Homo sapiens: one gene and its partners. The protein of the gene in region 2 interacts with the protein of the main gene of each other region in a pairwise test. Each region holds a gene or a part of one and is shown on either strand. Other genes may lie near its edges.

The links.
Region 1: the proteins of CAMK2A (region 2) and MAPK8IP2 interact in binary tests that used the Homo sapiens proteins (3 or more experiments, as listed by UniProt).
Region 3: the proteins of CAMK2A (region 2) and C1orf94 interact in binary tests that used the Homo sapiens proteins (3 or more experiments, as listed by UniProt).
Region 4: the proteins of CAMK2A (region 2) and RAB5A interact in binary tests that used the Homo sapiens proteins (3 or more experiments, as listed by UniProt).

The regions. Positions count from the first base shown.
Region 1 is NC_000022.11:50,610,072-50,615,746, reverse strand, and holds the end of MAPK8IP2 (C-Jun-amino-terminal kinase-interacting protein 2), read right to left. Parts: intron 5,536-5,675; coding exon 5,437-5,535; intron 5,041-5,436; coding exon 4,968-5,040; 3' UTR 1,769-4,967; downstream 1-1,768. UniProt on the Homo sapiens protein: The JNK-interacting protein (JIP) group of scaffold proteins selectively mediates JNK signaling by aggregating specific components of the MAPK cascade to form a functional JNK signaling module.
Region 2 is NC_000005.10:150,220,789-150,225,168, forward strand, and holds part of CAMK2A (calcium/calmodulin-dependent protein kinase type II subunit alpha), read right to left. Parts: intron 2,430-4,380; coding exon 2,201-2,429; coding exon of another isoform or gene 2,197-2,200; exon of another isoform or gene 2,172-2,196; intron 1,926-2,171; coding exon 1,922-1,925; 3' UTR 1-1,921. UniProt on the Homo sapiens protein: Calcium/calmodulin-dependent protein kinase that functions autonomously after Ca(2+)/calmodulin-binding and autophosphorylation, and is involved in various processes, such as synaptic plasticity, neurotransmitter release and long-term potentiation.
Region 3 is NC_000001.11:34,214,186-34,218,536, reverse strand, and holds part of C1orf94 (uncharacterized protein C1orf94), read right to left. Parts: intron 1-4,351.
Region 4 is NC_000003.12:19,977,376-19,982,864, reverse strand, and holds part of RAB5A (ras-related protein Rab-5A), read right to left. Parts: intron 4,556-5,489; coding exon 4,462-4,555; intron 2,905-4,461; exon of another isoform or gene 2,691-2,904; intron 1-2,690. UniProt on the Homo sapiens protein: The small GTPases Rab are key regulators of intracellular membrane trafficking, from the formation of transport vesicles to their fusion with membranes.

The sequences.
Region 1 (5,675 bases), on a different chromosome or scaffold from region 2:
TCAACCCTCAAGTAGAAGGGAGACTGGAAAAAATACACCAAAATATTAGAAACAGTTATCTCTGGGCCATAAAAATACAGTTGATTTTAGCCTTTCTTCTATCATCTGCAGTCTCCAAAATGTCTATGATATGTGTTACTCTTTATAGGGAACGTAATTTTTTTTTTTTTCTTTTAGACAGAGTCTCACTCTGTCTCCCAGGCTGGAGTGCAGTGGTGCGGTCTCCACTCACTGCAAGCTCCGCCTCCCGGGTTCACGCCACTCTCCTGCCTCAGCTTCCCGAGTAGCCGGGACCACAGGTGCCCACCACTATGCCCAGCGAATTTTGTTTTTGTATTTTTAGTAGAGACGGGGTTTCACCGTGTTAGCCAGGATGGTCTCGATCTCCTGACCTGGTGATCCACCCGCCTCGTCCTCCCAAAGTGCTGGGATTACAGGTGCAAGCCATCACGCCCAGCCAGGGAAAGTAATATTTTTAAAAATAGGGAAATCCTACTTTTATAGTGTTTATAAAAATAATAACTTACTCAAGCACTACCCTTGGCCTGTCTGACTGGCAGATTCATTTAAGCCTTATGATAACCTTATGGGGTGGTATTTTTATTGTAGCCAAAATAACTTTTTTGTTTGAGTTTGATTAATTTATCTTAACTTTTTTATCTTTAGTTTTTCTGTGGATATTTCCATTTGCACTTGGAGGTCTCTAATAAGTAGCAAATAATACTTCAAAAAATTAAGACATATTTGCTGCAGGAAAAAAAGGAAGAGAAACACCCTCAGCTCAACTTCAGCAAAAATGAGGTGGTTTTTTTTTTTTTTTTTTTTTTTTTTTTTTTTTTTTTTGAGACGGAGTCTTGCTCTGTCTCCCAGGCTGGAGTGCAGTGGCGCGATCTTGGCTCACTGCAAGCTCCGCCTCCCAGGTTCATGCCATTCTCCTGCCTCAGCCTCCCGAGTAGCTGGAACTACAAGCGCCTGCCACCACACCCGGCTAATTTTTTGTATTTTTAGTAGAGATGGGGTTTGACCGTGTTAGCCAGGATGGTCTCGATCTCCTGACCTCATGATCCGCCTGCCTCAGCCTCCCAAAGTGTTGGGATTACAGGCATGAGCCACTGCGCCCGGCCAAAAATGACTTTTAACATTTTTTGTGTTTCAGCATTTTTCAACATATAGTTTCTAGAATGCTACATATGACCCTGCCTATTTTCTTTCTTTCTCTTTCTTTCTTTCATCTCTCTCTCTCTCTCTCTCTCTCTTTCTCTCTCTCTCTCTCTCTTCTTTTCTTTCATTGTGGTTACAGGGTCTTGCTCTTTCCAGCCAGAGTGTGGTGGCATGATCATGGCTCACTGCAGCCTCAACCTCCTAGGCTCAAGCTATCCTCCTCCCTTACCCACCCAAGTAACTGGGACTACAGGTGTGTGCCACCACACCTAGATAATTTTTGTATTTTTTTTTTTTTTTTTTTGTAGAGATAGAGGTTTCGCTTTGTTGCTCAGGCTGGTCTCGAACTCCCAGACTCAAGGGATCTGCCCACCTTGGCCTCCCAAATTGCTAAGATTACACAGTAGCATGAGCTGCTGTGCCCAGAAATTTATTTCCACTTAATAGCATAACAGAAATTTTCTGTGTAATTACAAACATTGGAACTTTTTTTCACATCTACCCAATATTTCAATTAGGTAAATATACCTTAATCAATTAACCCTATTGGTCAATATTCAGATTACTTTTATGCTTACATTATTTCAAAGAAGAATGCAATAAACACTTTTCTGTAGAACGCGTTTTATTTAGAACGCCATCCTTGGGCTAGATTGGCGGAAGTTGGAGGCGTCATGCAGCGCCTCCTGCCTGGGAGCCAGGCGATCCGCCAGGTTCTGGGAGGACCTAAGGTCAACAGCCACGCCTGCTCTCTGGGCTCACAGTCAGCAGCCGCTACCAGGAGAGCAAGTCCTCAGAAGGCCCGAGACCAGGGCCCGGGAGCGCCCACAAGGACGGGAGGTCACCCAGTGACAAACAGGGAAGGGCAGCAGGTGCGCCCAGGAACCCAGAGGCTCCCAGAGCAGAAGTGGGATGCAGGGGTGGGGGCGGGTCATGCTGAGGTTCAACAGGGACCTGCTTCCTGGTTCAACAGGGAGCTGGCCAGAGAGAGGGATCTGCTGAGGCTTCTGTTTAAAAACCCTGGCCTGGGTGTGGGTGCAAGTGGATTTGCAGGTGCAGTGAGGCAGCGGCCGGAGCAGGCTGTTGCACGAAGACCCAGGAAAGTCAGGGTGGTTTGATCCAGGCAGAAGAGGGGGAAATGGAGCCTGGGGCAGACGTAAAGGTGCTGGGGTGAGGATAAGGGTGACAGGAGGGAGGAGTCTGGGGTGACCAAGGCCTGCAGCTCAGGTGACTGGGAAAAAACATAAAACAGAACACAGATGAATGCAGGGGTCGGGACGAAGGCTCCTGTGAGTCTGAAGTGACTGTGAGTGGCACCCTCTGGCCAGCCACAGTGGCTCTCACAGCTCATTCTGCAGAGCACCGGCCCAGTGATGAGCCGAGGAAGTGCCCCTGGAGGTCAGCTGGATCTGCCCAGTGGTCTGCACAGGGGGCGGCTGCCAGGGGCCTGAGCACAGGGAAACCCTCGAAACTGTGGGAGGGATGAAGCCAGAGAGGTAGACCCCAGAACCGACCAAGCCCAGCATGGGGCGTGGAGGGCGGCCAAGCTCAAGAAGACCATGAGATTGGAGAAGGAGCTGCAGAGAGGTGGAAGGCAGACAGGCGAAGGACTCACGAGCACGTCCAACAGCCGTCCTAAGGGCCGGCTGGAGGGAAAGAGACCTGAAGACACGTTGGGGGGCGGGGCCGGGCAGGGGCGGGGCCAGGCCGGGCAGGGGCGGGACGGGGGCGCCGGAGGGCAGGGCTTGGAGAATTCTCACCTGAGTGGAAGAGCAGAGGGAGGAGGTGGGTGGGTGGCAGCGGTTTCCAGGCAGCAGCTACAGGGGACTGAGGGCCACACCCCGAATGCCCTAGCCCAGGGGGCACAAGTTTCAAACGTACACACCCAGTGGGGCTATCTGCCTCTTTACAGCTTTATCTCAATTAGTAGGAAAGTTTTCTCATAAACGTTCTGCGTTTCCGTCGTGCCACTGGTCTGCGTCCTCGGTCTCTCTGGGGCCTCAGGTCTGTGCGCTGCACACGGGCTGAACCTCTGGATCATGATGCACTTCCTAACACTGGGCAGCTATTTCTCTGCTTGTTGGCTCTGTGAAGACGTGTTTTTTACGGACAGCACTTTCTAATGTTTATGTAGTAAGTTTGTGTATACTTCCCTTAGCTCACTAAGGAACCTTCAACTGTTGTCTTCCTGGTGTTGCACGAATCCTGGGCTCAGACAGAGGGACCCCGGCCATGCTGACCCCTGCCTGGGAGGCGGGCTCACCCAGGAGGGCCTGGGAGGGAACATTGCCGGGCATCTGCAGTCACCTAAGCACATAGTGAAAAAGTCACCTATTTTCTTCTGGCTTTCTCTGGAGAATTTTTTAAATATCCATTTTAAGATCTAAGTAGATTGTTTTTCTTTTCCTTTTTCTGAGACGGAGTCTCCCTCTGTCGCCCAGGCTGGAGTGCAGTGGTGCAATCTTGGCTCACTGCAACCTCCGCCTCCCAGGTTCAAGCGATTCTCATGCCTTAGCCTCCTGAGTAGCTGGGATTACAGGTGTGCGCCAGGACACCTAGCTAATTTTTGTATTTTTTGTGGAGATGGGGTTTCACCATGTTGGCCAAGCTGGTCTCAAACTCCTGACCTCAGGTGATACGCCCCGGCTCGGCCTCCCAAAGTGTTGGGATTACAAGCGTGAGCCACCGTGCCCGGCCAGATTGTTCTTCAAGGAGTTCATGCCCCCACTACACACTGACCTGAGCCGTGCTGGCCCCCAGTCCGTGCACGTGGAAAGGACACCCCATTGCACAGCCTCGGATTCCTCTGTGGCCAATCGAGTGTATCTAGGGAGAATTCCCAAGGGTGCTTCTAGATACGGCACCTCAGATAAGGCCCCAGAGCAGCACCGCAGGGACCCCCGGCACAATTTCGGAAAGAGCTAAAAGGGTGAGATTGCCACAACACTCCCGCCACTGGGGACTCTGTCCCTACCACAATGGGCAGCCCCTGGGCACCTGGCCCCATGTCTTAGCACCCTCTAGAAACAGCCAATGTCACACCAAGCAGAGAGTTTATTGAGGCCATGGGCAGGGCCCAGGAACACAGCACGGGGCGTGCGTGGGGTGGATGCACGCTGGACTGCAGGGGTGCGCTAGCAGCGGCAAGCGGAGGGGTATTGGGGGCCCAGGAGGGCCCCCCCTCCTAGCAGCGTCTAGGGGCTTCAGGTGAGCATCAAGAACCACTCCTAGCCTCCGCAGGGCTCTTTTGGGAACCCCTCCCTGCTTCCCCCTGAGCTCCATGTGGGGTGGGGCTGGGGCGAGGGGGCCCCTCTTGTCCCTGTGGTCAAGGATGGGATGATCCCTTGAGATTCACTATAAAAATTAAAATTCCCTTATAAATCGCAGGGGAGTGGCAGGAGGGCATCACTTGGAAGCCGACATTACCTGTCCCTAGAGCCGCACCTCCTCCACACCCCCGAAGTTCTGACCCCAAAGTGAAGAATAGAGGATAAGGTTTGCAGGCACAGAGAGGGGCAGAGACACCAGGAGAGAGAAAAGGGAGACTGGGAAGGGAAGGAGGAGGACAACACAGAGAAAGAACGGATCTGAGGAAAAGCAGGGGCACGGGGGCTCCACTCCCCCGCAGCCCCAACAGCTGCGCCCTGGGGACCGAGGACGAGAGTTCCCAGCCCGCAGACCCCCACAAGCGTAAGGTCCCATGTCCCCCCAATCCAGTCCTTGCCAAAGCCATGGTGGCCTCTTGAGACATCCTCAGCCCCAGCTGCGCCTGGAGCAGACGGCCAGGAGACAGAGCGGTGGGCAGGCTACTCCAGGTAGATGTCCTCCGTGGGGCAGGCGTACGCCAGGTGCTCTTGGTAGTACTCCAGGAAGGCGCGGCTGGGGAAAGACGGTCCTCCACCAGCCACTCAGGGCCGGTCCTCAACCCCCAAACTGCCTTCCACAGAGCCTCTGAGCTCTCCCTCCTTCCTCCCTCTGCAGCCATCCATAACCCCCCACCCAGGCATGGCCATGTCACCCCCAAGTGTGACCCTCAGCTCTCCTGGCCCAGCAATTCTACCCCTGCCAGAGTGCCTGGGCCATGTGTCTGTGCCTGTTCCCACCCCATGCCCAGCACCCCAAACTGTCACCCACCACTGCCCTCTCTACACAGCACATCTGGTTCTCCTTCCCCAGACCTCCCCTGCCAGGCTCCTGCCCCCACCTGCTCACCTCCGCTCCCCACCTCCGTAACCCTGCACCCATTCTGCACCCACACCCTGGGGCCCCACTCACCCCACACTCTGCGCCACCGGCCTCATGGACTCCTGGGAGACAAAGACGTGGCAGGCGAAGCGGCTCAGCAGGGGGTGTTTGGTGATGAAGCCGAAATAGCTGCGGGCAAGTCAGTGTGGAGGGCACGTCAGAGCCCTGGCCCAGCCTTGGCCACCCCACAAATGATGTAGAGAGAAGAGGCAGGAACAAAGGGCTTGGGGAGAGGGTAAGGGACAGGAGTGTGGGGGTCGCACAATTTC
Region 2 (4,380 bases):
GCAGCATCTCTCCTGGCCTGCAGACCTGGCGTTGCCTGTCTCACCTGGGCCTGGGCAGCAGGACTTGAGAAAAGAACCCAGCAGACAGCTGGTGATTGGGGAGAGCTCAGAAAATCTCGGATCAAACATCCTCACCAGTTCTGCTCCAACCAACACCCAGGAGGGTCGAGGGTACCGGAGCCTCCTCCAATCCCTGGGGACGTGGCTCTTCCTCCCCTAAAATCCTCCAGAGGGGACAGTATCTCATGCTGGCAAAACACGGCCACACAGAGGCCAAAAGCACAGAGAGGCAGCAACATAATTCCGAGTCGGACACTGAGAATACAACCTCTATTTTTTTTTTTAGTCCAAAACATGTAGATTGGTTTTGTTGAGTGTTTTCTTCTTTTTGTTTGTTTTCAACATACTTACTGCGTATAAAGTCATGCAAAGAAAACAGTGCAGACAGTAGATCCTAGTGGATGTGCCAAGGTATTCCACTCAGAGTCAATCCCAGGGAAAGAGGGAAAGAGGAAAAGAAAGAGAGAATGCGAACCCGAGGCTGCAGGATGAGGCATGAAGAGTAGAAATTCCCAGTGCTTTGCTGTGGTCATCAGACGCCAAGGGGAGAGAGGCAATGAAGACACACGCTCACGGGCCCCCCAGAGGTGGGTGGGGGGTGCTGGGGGCGGCACACAGATATGGTGAGATGAAATCCTGGGAAGTTCGGTAGAGAAGACCCCAGTTTGCGAGGGAAGCAAAGAAAAGTCCAGGTATTTCCATCCTGACAGCCTCCCTCCTCCTCTCTGCCCTGACTTGCTGTTCCTGAGTCAGTGCTGGCATCTGATGCTTCCACAGTCCCAAAAGGAACGCCTGTGTCAGCTCACCTTGGGACCGAAATGGCAGAGAGGCCCTTCTCCCCGGAGCTGAGTCCACCTTGGCCCCAATAACCACAGGTGACAAGGTCCACCTCAGAGATGACAAAAAAAAAAAAAAAAACTAGAACAGAAAAAAACTACCCCTCACCCCTCTTCCTACACCCCTTCCAACCTGACCCTTCTCACAATAATCTGAGAAGTCTAGTTATTACATAAATATCCATTAACGCGAAATCCATTTACGAAATACACAGAAATTTGGCTATAAAAAGGCATGCGGTCCAAGTAGAAGTGATACCTAAACGTTGCTTTCTTTTGCCCCCCAAAAACAATTAGATTCCCTCTCTGAGATACGACAAAGCTGGAATTCTCCAGGGATGACGGGGGTGGGGTGGGCAGGTTAATGTTGGAGGTGGACTTCACCAGAAGGAAGCAGAAAGCAAGTAGGGGCACCTGAGAGGGCCACATCCCCCACACCGAGGGAAGGGTCAGACCACCCTGAGGTCAGCACAGGAGGAAGAAGACTTAGGGGAGCACTTTGAGGCAGGAGGCTCCTGGCGTATGCTCTTCTCCCCACTCCTTCAGTGCGGTTGGCTTAGGGGGAAGGGAGTGTCATCTGCCCTTCCCCGGGGACACTGGAAGAGGAGAGGTCTGGGAGAGGGACGGACGGATGCTGCCTTCCTCATCATGCCACCCCTCCTTCTCCCCAGCCCCTGGTGGGCACCAGCCCGGGCATTCTAGCCTACAGCCCAAGACAGATCAGGCGGACAGCAGCTGAGGCTGGGGAGAGGGGGCCAGTGCTGTGGACACCCATGCCTGAGGAAGCCCCAGCCTGGCAGGGGAGAGGGTGGGGGTGAGAGGTGGGGAGATGTGGCCGTTCGCTCTGAAGTTGCGATGACTTTTGTGAACAAGCAGGTTTTCTTGATGCAGGTACAGAAGTGACGGTGGTGGGGTGATGACATGGGAGAATTCCAGCAAAATCCACCTGGGAGAACCAGCAGCTCCACTCCACGGACAGAGTGGATCTCTGCGGCACAGCAACGCAGCGACCCCAGCCTGGTCCCTCAGCTGTAAGACACACACGGGGTGCTTCTCAGGGCATGGTGTTTCCTGCTTGGGCAACCCACCCACCCTGCCGCTTTAGATGGAGTCCATGCGGTCCCTGGTGGCTCCTGCCCAGCTCTTCCCCCAGACCTGCAGGCCTGGCCCCCTTCTTGGGGTCTCCCCACCCCACTCTGCAGCCTTTCAGAGCTGAAGGCAGCAGCTTCCCCGACGTAACCCCCTCCAGGGCAACACTCCCATCCTTTACATTACCCTGGGAGGCAGGAAGGAGGGATTCTTACTGGGGCAGGACGGAGGGCGCCCCAGATCTGTGGAAGTGGACGATCTGCCATTTGCCATCCCGGCGGTGCCAGACACGGGTCTCCTCCGACTGGGCGGTGCGTGGGATGCCGCCAGCGTCCAGGTACTGCGTGATGCGGATGTAGGCGATGCAGGCTGACTCGTCGCCCATCAGGTGGATGTGGGGATTCAGGATGGTGGTGTGCACGGGCTTGCTGTTCCGGGACCACACTGGAGGAGGGGATGGGAGGGGCAGAGGAGATGCAACCGGGGGCCTCCTGTCTCACTTTCTTCACTTTCTCCACTCCCAGCAGCCCTCTCAATGGAGGCGCCCTGCCTGACTCATTTGCAGGGAAGGGGCCTGTGTGGCAGGACTCAGCTACCTGGGATCAAGGTAGAACTTCTAGATGATGGGGACATCACATCCTAGTTTAGATACAGTGGAGTTCAGACATGCAGAATTCATCAAACATGAGAAAATGGAATGTTTGAATCATGACCGTTAGCCACATGGAATAAGCCTAGAGGATCATAGAACCAGAAGAGCTGTGAGCACAGTCTCAAATCCGGATCCCCCCAGGTACCAGGCAGGCACATAAACAACGGGGGCTGAGCTGGGTATAAGATGCTAAATGACAACTGACCCTTTGCCTCTGGGTCAGGGAGGCGATAGGGAGTGATGGGGACTGTGGCGAATAGAATGTCTTGTCCCACCTAAAGAGGGCATCCTGCACACAGCTTCCCTGGTGGTTGCCATGTGAGTGAGACCAGTGTTGACGTGCCTCGTTTTTCAAGAGAATCTGGAAATCTGAATTTTTATATGAAAACTCTTCATTTTTTAGTATTGGCATCTAATTCAAATTTAAAACATCATGCAAGCCAAGTGAAACATATCTACAGTTCAGACACGGCCCGTGGGCCTGTCTGAAGTATATCTACTTCTACTGTATATCTACTTCTACTGTAGATATACAGAATTGTGGAAACGTGGAGGAATATGAAAATTGTAGAATCTTAGAACCTTGAAATGATAAGGATGGTATTGGTGGTCATGGGGTGAGGTCATGGGACTTTCCAGCGTTAGGGAGAGATGCATAGCTCTTGGAATCATGATGGGGCTGACAAAGTCCCTGACACCAGCTTCCACCAGATGAAACATGAGGCATCTCCAGGACTATTATTATATTAATTCTAGAAACTCGATGTTTTCCTCAAGATAGGAAATGAAAGCATAGAAAGACAATGACCCAGGGAGGGGTTGGACAGTGGTGATCTGTATCTTGGGCTTGAGAGGAGCCCTTCCCTTTGTGTAGCCCGAATATAGGTCTGAATCATGTGAGGTGCTGACTTAAAACACAGCTTCCCCAACCCCACCCTTAGAGAGCCCAGTTCAAGAATCTCTAATATTAAAAATCTCCCTTCTCCTTCCCTACCACTTGATCCTGGTGCCAAGCCAGGTTTGTGAGCCACTTATTTCCTGAAAAATGTAAAATGTCTTTTTTTTTCAGGATTGCAGAAAATATCCAATAACACCCATCCCCTAATATCAGAAGCACGCTACACCCAGGCTTTGAATAAGGACTTAAAATCACCAAGTCTTAGGCACCATAGAATAACAGACTTTGAATTTGGGCTCTCAGACATACAGAATGTAGGGTTTCAGCGTCATAGACTTGGGAGTGACCTCAGAGGTCAGAGGTCACCCAGCAGCCGAACTATAGAATCTGAGAAGGGCTCTATAAGCGTCCCTGACAGCATTCAGGGCTGGAGGCATACAAGACCAACATATCCATTCCACAGATATGCAAACTCAGGTCCAGAGAAGCAATCTGACTCGTCCCAAGCTGGGCTAATTCCTGAAAAAAACGCAGTGGAATCTAAAAGTCAGTTTTGGCCGGGAGCAGTGACTCACTCCTGTAATTCCAACAGTTTAGGAGACTGAGGCAGGTGGACTGCGTGAGCCCAGGAGTTTGAGACCAGCCTGGGCAAAAAGGTGAAACCCAGTCTCTACAAAAAATACAAAAAAATAGCCAGTCTCATAACCTGGTAGGTAGGGAGAGAGAGAGAGAGAGAGAGAGAGAGAGAGAAAGTGAGAGAGAGAGAGAGAGACAATGGATAGATAAAATTAAAAAAAAAAAAGTCAGTTTCCAAGTGAGACTGCATTAGAACAATCTAGAACAAT
Region 3 (4,351 bases), on a different chromosome or scaffold from region 2:
TGGCCCTGGGAAAGTAAAATATTAAAATAATACAATTAGAGGACAATCAAGCGCTTCTCCTTATGCTTACTTGGATCAGGAAGTCCCTGGGAGCCTGTAAAGATTGTTTCAATGGAGCCTACACTCTCTCCCTGCCCAAGACCCATAGAACAGGGACCCTCTCTGGACCTAAGCATCTTACCTGTATTCCTGTGACCACTCTACCTGCCTTAGAGGACCAGACATGTCCCTCAGGAAAATCTACAACATCAGAGAACTTAGAGGCAAGTCCAGCATAAGGTCTTTGGGGCTGGACAATCCCAGAGTCCCTCCTCCCCTTCCAGCACTAAGCTAAATCAGGCCCTTCACTCCATCCCTGACTCAGAAATAAGCATTGAGACATCACTGAGTGCCTAGGGCTTTGCTAGACCCTCAGGGAAGGAAGGGTTAAGACGTGAGCCTCACCGTCTAAGAGCAGAAATGCACACGCCTCTCCTTTTCTCCCTGGCACACTCCTATCCATACTTCAAAATAGAGTTCAAAAGCCATCTCCTCTGTGAAGACTTCCCTGACCTCTCCAGATGGAATCATTTACTCACACTGCTGGAATCCTACTGTAATTTCTTCACCCATCTGCTCAGATACTTTGAATGAATGGGAACAGAACTCAATACAAATTACAATAGAGCAAATGGCTAGATTTAATCTAATCCTGGGATTCTCAATCACTTTTCAGCTGGGCAGATGCATATTATAGAAGAGATTCACATTCATGGTACCCTTCTATGAATTGATGAAACAAAAAGCGGGAGCAGAGGAGGGAAGAAGCAATGGAAATAGACCACGGCATTCATTTGTAGTGCCTCAGCAGCTAACTCTGTCTCTTGCTCACTGAGTCTCCATGGGCAAGTTGGGCTGGGTTGTCTCACTAGCTTCTCACTAAAATAAGTGCCAAGAGAGCAGAGACTTTACCTATTTCATATCATGTGCCCAGGGCCTGACACAATGTGGGTCCCTCATAAGCAATCCATGCCAGCGGTAACCCCACCTCTGTTTCTCTCTTTCAGAAATCATATTGGGATCATTCAGAAATCATAATGATGTTATTATAGGGATACCCTGCCTTCCACTCTGACTTACAAAATAAAGGCTGTAACCCATACTTCAGTATTTAACAATTATCAGTAATCAACAATGATCATGACACAGCTCATATCTGATTGGCACACATGCAGCTAGGTCCTCCAGGTTGAGAACTTCTGATCAGATCAACGGCCACCGGCATGATCTAGACAGTATGTACGCTAGAGGGCCAGGAAGAGGAGCAATCTGTGTGGACGAGAGTTAACAAGTAATGCTTCCTGGAGGAGGAGGAGCTTGAGTTGCCTGTTGAGTAGGACGAACATATGTCCTGGTTTGCCTGGGCCGGCCTCTATGTTGGTATTTCTGGTATAATTATTTTATAGTTTCATTTATTTGAAACAGAGTCTTACTCTGTCACCCAGGCTGGAGTGCAGTGGCATGATCTTGACTCACCGCAATCTCTGCTTCCCAGGTCCAAGCGATTCCTGTGCCTCATTCTCCCCAGTAGTTGGGACTACATGTGTGCACCATCACACCTGGCTAATTTTTTGTATTTTTGGTAGAGATGGGGTTTCACTGTGTTGGCCAGGCTGGTCTCAAACTCCTGACCTCAGGTGATCCACCTGCCTTGGCCTCCCAAAGTGCTGGGAATACAGTTGTGAGCCACCGTGTCTGGCCTGATATAATTATTATCTGTACTCCTTTTAACTCTCAAATTTATTATTGCTTGGAAGATAAATTGTATGGTTATTCCACCATGATGAATGTGTGCAAATTGACTTGGCAGAGGGGAGGGCTCTACTTCTCCTTCCCTGAGGACATGGAAGCCTCTCACTCCTTCCTCTCCCCTTCACACAGTTTTGTCTCTTGATTCCACCTTTTCTGCTGACCTTCCTTGTCTTCCATGCTGAACTCTCTGCTTAGGCCCATGCATACTCCCCAGCCAGGTGCAGCCTCACCTTGATCTTGTTCCATCAGCACCTCGCGTCACCACCCCAACACCAGCACTTTGTTCAGGAAACACTTTCTTCACTTGGCTTCCTGCACTCCACTTTCCCATTTTTTTCCCCACCTCACTAGATAGTCCTACTTATTCACAGAATCTTTGCTGGTTCCTCCACATCTCCGCAGCCTCTACATGCTGGAAGTCTCAAGGCTCAGCCCTTGGATCTCTTCTCTTCTCTATACTTGTGTATTTTGGGCCATCTCATCCCATCCCATCCCTTGCCTTGAAATATCATGTATATGAGAATGGCTCCCAAACGTATTACCAGCCCCAACCTCTCCCCTGAGTTCCAGACTCCTATATGCACCTACCTATCCATAGCTCCACCCATCTGTCTAATGACTTTCTCAATTTTCACATGTCTAAGACTGACTCTTGGTAAACAGATCCTTGCTGTGGTCATCATGACCTTGGTCATTTTTTGTTTTTTGTTTGTTTGTTTGTTTTATTTTGTTTTGTTTTTGAGATGGAGTTGTGCTCTGTCACCCAGGCTGGAATACAATGGCATGATCTCGGCTCACTGCAACCTCCGCCTCCCTGGTTCAAGCAATTCTCCTGCCTCAGCCTCCCGAGTAGCTGGGATTATAGGCACCCACGATTATGCCCAGCTAATTTGTGTATTTTTAGTAGAGATGGGGTTTTACCATCTTGGCCAGGCTGGTCTCGAACTCCTGACCTCAAGTGATCCACCCACCTCGGTCTCCGAAAGTGCTGGGATTACAGGCGTGAGCCACTGTGCCTGGCCCAATGACCTTAGTGTTTTGGCATTGCTGCTGCTCCAGTTGCACAAGTCAAAAACCAAGGAATTTGTTTGACTTTTCCCTTTCCCTCATCACACATTCAACCATCATCACGTCCCACCAATTCTACCAAGAAAATAACACATCACAGATCTTTTCACCTGCCCCCTTTCCCAGGGTCACTGCCTTTATCCATCCCACCAATGCCTCTTGCTCAACTATAAAGCTCTAGCCTACTCCCCTGCCTCAGCTCTTACCCTCATAGTCCATTCTTCAGACATTGACCAATGTGATCTGTTTTATATAGAAGATTAGAACATGTCCTCATCAATTTAAAAGCCTACATGGTTTTCCACTGCTCCTGAAACAAGACTTCTAGCCATGCCTACCAGGCCCTGTCTAGTCTGGCCCTGGCTACCTCTTATTTTAATTCCATGCACTCCCTCCCTCACTGTTTGTGCTGCAGCCACAGGTTCCCACCTCAGAGCCCTTGCACTTTCTATTATTTCTGCCCAGAGGCTCATCCCCGAAATGTATGTGTGGTTCATTCTCTCATCTCATTTAGATCTTGGCTCAAGAGGCTGCCCTTGATTCTTCTCCCCACCCCAACCCATATCCTGAGGACCTGGCCTTGCATGCTTGCCTGTTTATCTCCTTATTGTCCATTTCTCCTTCTAGAATGAAAGCTCCTTAGGAGAAGGAAAACCTTTTTTTCGTTCACTTCATTATCCCTGGTGTCTACAACAGTGCCAGGCACATACAAGGTGCTGGATCAATATTTTTTGAATGAACAGATCATCCCCTCTGGGTACTCAGGCTTGCATCCCTTACATTATTTTTCCGACCTCATGGTCCTGGTCTCCCCAGCCTCTCAGAACGCCAATCCACCCTGCTCCTTCTCCTCACCCTCCTCTTTGCCTCCACTGTCTCTGGCTTTCCCCAGGCTGTCTCTCACTTCTCAGGCTGCTCCTTCCTCGGGCTGCCTACCCACTCCTCCGACCTCTGCAGACATGTGGAGACCAAGTCTCAACCTTCTGGTCTCACAGCTCCCAGTCGGTGGTTCCCGAAAGCTGACTGAGGAGACATTGAGACCACCCTCCCTCCCAGACACAGCCAGGGCTATCTCCTACAGCAAGTCTATCTTCCCAGAGCCCAGAGTCACAGCACAGAATGTGGGAAGTTGGCCAACCTGCAGGGGGCTTGTCTGGGTCTCTATTCTCACCTCCAGGGGATGATAATCTGTCCCATAGGCCCCTAGAGCCACCTCTAGACCCCACCCTATCCTGCTTCCTCTTTCTCTTACTTCCAGCCCATCAATTCACTCTGATGTGCATAAATCTTCCCTGGATCCCCAGGCCTAGCAGTCCAAAGCCTTTCATAATCTAGTCTCAACCTCCCTTTTCCAATCCTATTTTCCACCTTTTTCAGAGACAAATCTAATTCTTCAGCCAGACTCCTTTATTCCCCAGGCCTCCAGCTTGCCACTTGCTTTCCCATCTGAGGGCCTTGCTCCTCCTGCCTGGAATGCCCTCCTCCCAGTGCT
Region 4 (5,489 bases), on a different chromosome or scaffold from region 2:
CACCCCGAATTGTGATAGATCATATCTACTATTTCCTTCCTGGCTTCCACAGCCTTTGGCCTTAAAACATCTATATACATGCTCTCTTTTTTTTTTTTTTTAAGAGACAAGGTCTCACTCTGTCACCCAGGATTAAGTGCAGTGGTATGATCATGGCTTACTGCAGTCCTGAGTTCCAAAGTGAGATGGGGTCTCACTTTGTTGCCTAGGCTGGTCTTGAACTCTTGGGCTCAAGCAACTCTTCCGCCTCAGACTCCCACGTGCTGGGACTGCAAGCATGAGCCACCATGCTCGACCGCTTAGTTTTTAAAAGAGAAACTTACACCTTGCAGAGTAACCATCAGCTGCCTTCAAATAAAGGGGAAATAGATAAGAGTTGCATTTTTGAGAATGAACAATTATAATCTATGCTTTGGGCAAAGGAAGGACAGATAACACCCAAGTTAGATGCCTGCATGTGTCAAAACTTAGCATACTGGAGGAAACATACTCACACACAAACATACCTTAGCATGCTAGTGGAAATACACTTAGACACAAACATATCCACATACATTTATACATACTCAACACTTCGTTGTGATCTTAGTTTGAATGTAGCCTGCAGCCATACTTCTTTTCATTTTGGAGACAAGGTCTCCCTCTGTAGCCCAAGTTAGAGTGTGGTGCATCAATCATAGCTCACTGCAGCCTTGAACTCCTGGGCTCAAAAGATCCTCCCACCTCAGCTTTCCAAGTAGCTGAGACTACAGGGTGTGCACCACCATGCCTGGCTTTTTTTTTTTGGTAGAGATAGGGTCTTGCTCTGTTGCCCAGGCTGGTCTAGAACTCCTGGCCTTGAAGATCATCCCACCGTGGCCTCTCAAAGTATTGGGATTATAGGAGTGAGCCACCTCAACCAACCTCATTTTCTCCTTTTATGGGCTGATGAATCCTAATCTGACTGACCAGTAGCTGTACCTAATCCAGATAGAATTATCCTGAAGACCTCATCTCCAAAAACTATTTCTTAATTTTATTTGAGTCCGATGAGTGTGGCTTGTCAAATTCAGACAACACTCTCAACCAGCAGTTACGGCTTTACCTCTGCCAAGCTCTATACAGCTAGTGGCTGTTCTCTGGAGTGTGCTTCCCACTGATTAAAAAAACTTACCTGCTGGATATACAGATGCTCCTTGACTTACAATGGGGCTACATCCTGATATATCCATCCTAAGTTGTATGTTTTTGATTTATGATTTTTTTTTTTTTGAGGCGGAGTCTCGCTCTGTCACCCAGGCTGGAGTGCAGTGGCACGATCTCAGCTCGCTACAACCTCTGCCTCCTGGGTTCAAGCAATTCCCCTGCCTCAGCCTCCCAAGTAGCTGGGACTACAGGCACATACCACCACACCCAGCTAATTTTTCTATTTTTAGTAGAGACGGGGTTTCGACATGTTGGCCCGGCTTGTTTCCTGACCAACTCCTGACCTCAGGTGATAGCCCGCCTTGGCCTCCCAAAGTGCTGGGATTACAGGTAGTGAGCCACTGCGCCCAGCCTGATTTATGATATTTTTAATTTATGATGGGTTTCTGTATGTAATCCCGTAGTAAGTTAAGAATGTACTAAATGCATATCACTTTCACCCCATCGAGTTATAAAATCGTAAGTCAAACCACTGTAAAGTTGGAGATTGCTGTAGTTTGTTTTAATACATAAGATCCTTGATGTGCTAAATTCATTTTTTGAGGGGAGGCAGAATATTAAAGATGACTAAGAGTACTGATTTTAAGAGTGGCTGCACACACTGATCTCTATCAATCTTGGGGACAGACCACTATGGTAAGACTCTAACTTTACCATAGCTTTGACTCAGGTTACTCAGAAATTGAATACACTCTGCTTTGAGATCGGATTGCCTAGTTGCATTGTGAACCTTTTATCCTTTATTTGTTCTACACATTCCATTCTACATCAGCATCAATCATTTTTAGAATCCTAGATGCTGGGTTGGGCAATGGATTTGGGAGCCAGGAGCACTGAAGTTTGGAAAGAAAGCCTTCAATTGGGCCACTTCTCTGGGACTGGCTCTGGGCTGGTAGCATAAATAGCATTATAATGGTAAATCTCCAGTCAAATGTATTTACAAGCAAAGCCCCAGAAATGTTGAACACTGGTACCTGGGACACAAAATAGCACTATATATTGTATATAATAACAACTTAGGTTCCAGATTGAGTAATCAATCATGTATCCCTTTAGCATGTTCCCTAAGTGTTTAAATCAGAGGTGAGTGAGATTAAGAGGATGAAGGAGGTAAACTAGAACGAGTAACTTTTTAGTCCTTGCATTGATTAGAGTTGTTATGAGTGCACTGTGTGATTTAAGTTACTAATCTATCAAAGTGTTCCTTCATAACAAAAAAAAAAAGAAAAAAAAATTTACTAACCTAGTGAAGGAAATGGAAAGGCCACAATTCCATTTACAACATAGATTTTCTTTTAAGAAGTGCAACATTCTGATTTCAGAAAAAAACAAAAAACTAAAATATGTAGGCTGCTTTCTAACTCGAAAAATGACTTTATTAGCATGTTTGAATAAAAAGGTACAAACTAAAGCCCATCTGGTAGAGTTTAAATATTGTGAGAAAGGTTTACAGTGCAGGCTGATTTGAGAGGCCTATTAACTCATTGTTTCCTCTAACTTTTCAGATGTGATTCTGGGTGTCATCTGTCACATTTGTAAAATGAGTATATTATCACACAATCCTTCGCAACTGTGCCAGCACTTCCCTAGCAAACTGCAAACTTGAGTTTTTCAGGAAAACAGTTTACATGAGAAAAGGCAAGTTCTTTCCCATTTCGAATGAAGTACCATTAAACTCTGTCACCTAGTGAAAAATAATAAAAATACTTGCAACTTTTACTGGGTTTTCATTATTCTCTGATTCAGCTATTAACTATTTATGAGTTCAATTTAAGAATATTTCTTACTTGGGGTTAGGACTGTGAACACCCCAGTTAAGAATCAGTGCTGTAAAATAAAAGGTGTTATGGGATGAGAAGAGTGCTGGGCACATGAAAACCACAGACGGCAAACTTTGAGAACCACCAAAACAGACCCTTCAGGTAGAATCTATACATTAAAACCACTGGAAAGAGGAAAGGGTTAAAAAAAAAATCCAAAACCAAAAAACAAAACCAACCTTTATTTTTGTTATAGAAAAAAGGAGGCTTATTACTACTCCAACTTCATTACTTATAACTGAAACAGCAATTACCATCAGTTAAAAGTACCTTAGGGCCAGGGGCAGTGGCTCGCGCCTGTAATCCCAGCACTTTGGGAGGCTGACGTGGGCGGATCACAAGGTCAGGAGATTGAGACCATCCTGGCTAACATGGTGAAACCCCGTCTCTACTAAAAATACAAAAAAAATTAGTCGGGCATGGTGGTGGGTGCCTGTAGTCCCAGCTACAGGAGAGGCTGAGGCAGGAGAATGGCGTGAATCCAGGAGGCGGAGCTTGCAGTGAGCCGAGATCGTCCCACTGCACTCCAACCTGGGTGACAGAGCAGGACTCCATTTCAAAAAAAAAAAAAAAGAAAGTACCTTAGGCTGGGTGTAGTGGCTCACGCCTGTAATCCCAGCACTTTGGGAGGCCGAGGTGGGCAGATCACGAGATCAGGAGTTCGAGACCAGCCTGACCAACATGGTGAAACCCTGTCTCTACTATAAATACAAAAATTAGCTGGGCGTGGTGGTGTGCACCTGTAATCCCAGCAATTCAGGAGGCAGAAGCAGGAGAACCGCTTGAATCCGGGAAGTGGAGGTTGCAGTGAGCTGAGATCGTACCATTGCACTCCAGCCTGGGCGACAGAGCGAGACTGTCTCAAAAAAAAAAAAAGTACCTTAAAGCAACAGCAAGAACATTGTGTAAGATCAAATGACCATCTGAGGTAATATAAAGTATGGATGTTGTTTTGTTTTCCTTTTTTCTCCTTACGCCTCTATGCTTTGAAATCATCTTCCTTATAATGTTTACATTAAAATAATTTGTCAATCTGTATACTTATGTGTCATGTTCTTCTGAGTTATATTTACCAATAATTTGATTTTTAAAAAGTATAATCTAATAAAAAAAATATTTATCCAAATTTCCCAGCGAAACCTTTGCAAAATCTGTCTGTCTGAACTATCAGGTTAAGAGGTTAAGGCTTAACTCACCTGGAAGAAGCTGCCTAAACTGACAGTATTACAACCTAATAGGTAATCATCTTTCAAATTTAACAATATTACCAACAAAATATTGTTTTGTGGAAGGGACTTAGAAAAGTGGTATAATCTCTCTCTCTCTCTCACACACACACATAAACATACACACAAACCCACCCCCAAAAATTTTTTAAAAAAGAGACAGTCAAACCAAATATGCTTCACACTTGTTTTGCTTATATTGATCATTTAAAAAGAGATATTAATCTTACCTATTGCCATGAATATTTCATTTACATTCATTGATGTTTTAGCGGATGTCTCCATGAATAATAAACTATTGTCATCTGCATAGGACTGTGCTTCCTGTTTACAGAACAAAAAATGAGATATATGAGATATATCTCTTGGAAATACACTACACCTGCTTTAAACTTGTTATAGAAAAGGAGACTTTCTTATTACTACAACCTGATTCCTATAATCATCTATAATCAACAACTATATAATAAGCTACAACAGAGGTAAGAGCACTGTGCAAGATAATTTTATAATGGACTATTTCCTTTTTTGTCTGAAATTCTTGCATTATCCCACCTTGATTAATCTTTTCTTACATTAAATCTGCTTTCAAATACTGAGTTCCAGAGATGGGGGAGAATTATCTTATTCTAAATAAAACTCTCTTTGATCTCAACGGCAATTTTTATTTGCACTTACTGTCTGCAATGAAGACAAAGGGAAACCAAATATCTAACACTGGCTTCAAACACTAAATGACAACCTCATATTTAATTTTCAATGACTTCTACAGCAATATTATAATCTTGAATATATCATAAATCATTCCTTTGAAAATTACATCACTGCCCTACATTTTTGTCATGCTTTTACAGTTTACATATATTATTACTTTTGATCCTCATAGCTGTTGTGAGGGGTAACCAATGATCTTTCCCATTGGACAAAGAAACAACTGAGGTTCCTCTGAACTGTTATGTGACAGGGCCACTTCTGACTGTAATTTAAGTGTTTTCTCTGCCACTCTTGTGCTGGGAAGGCAACAATTTTGGAAAGAGTAATGGATACTACATCTCACATCGTTGTCCTAAGAATTAAATAAAATTACAAATGTAACATGCCCAACTTAATACCTAATGATGCAAGAATACATGGATTCCATCTACGTCATCAAAAAAGAAAACTATTTCATCACTGATATATACAGAACAGCCACAACCGCCCTTCTAGTAGAGAAGCCAAAGAGCAAGAGAACAGGCACAGTTTTAAAAGGTCTAAG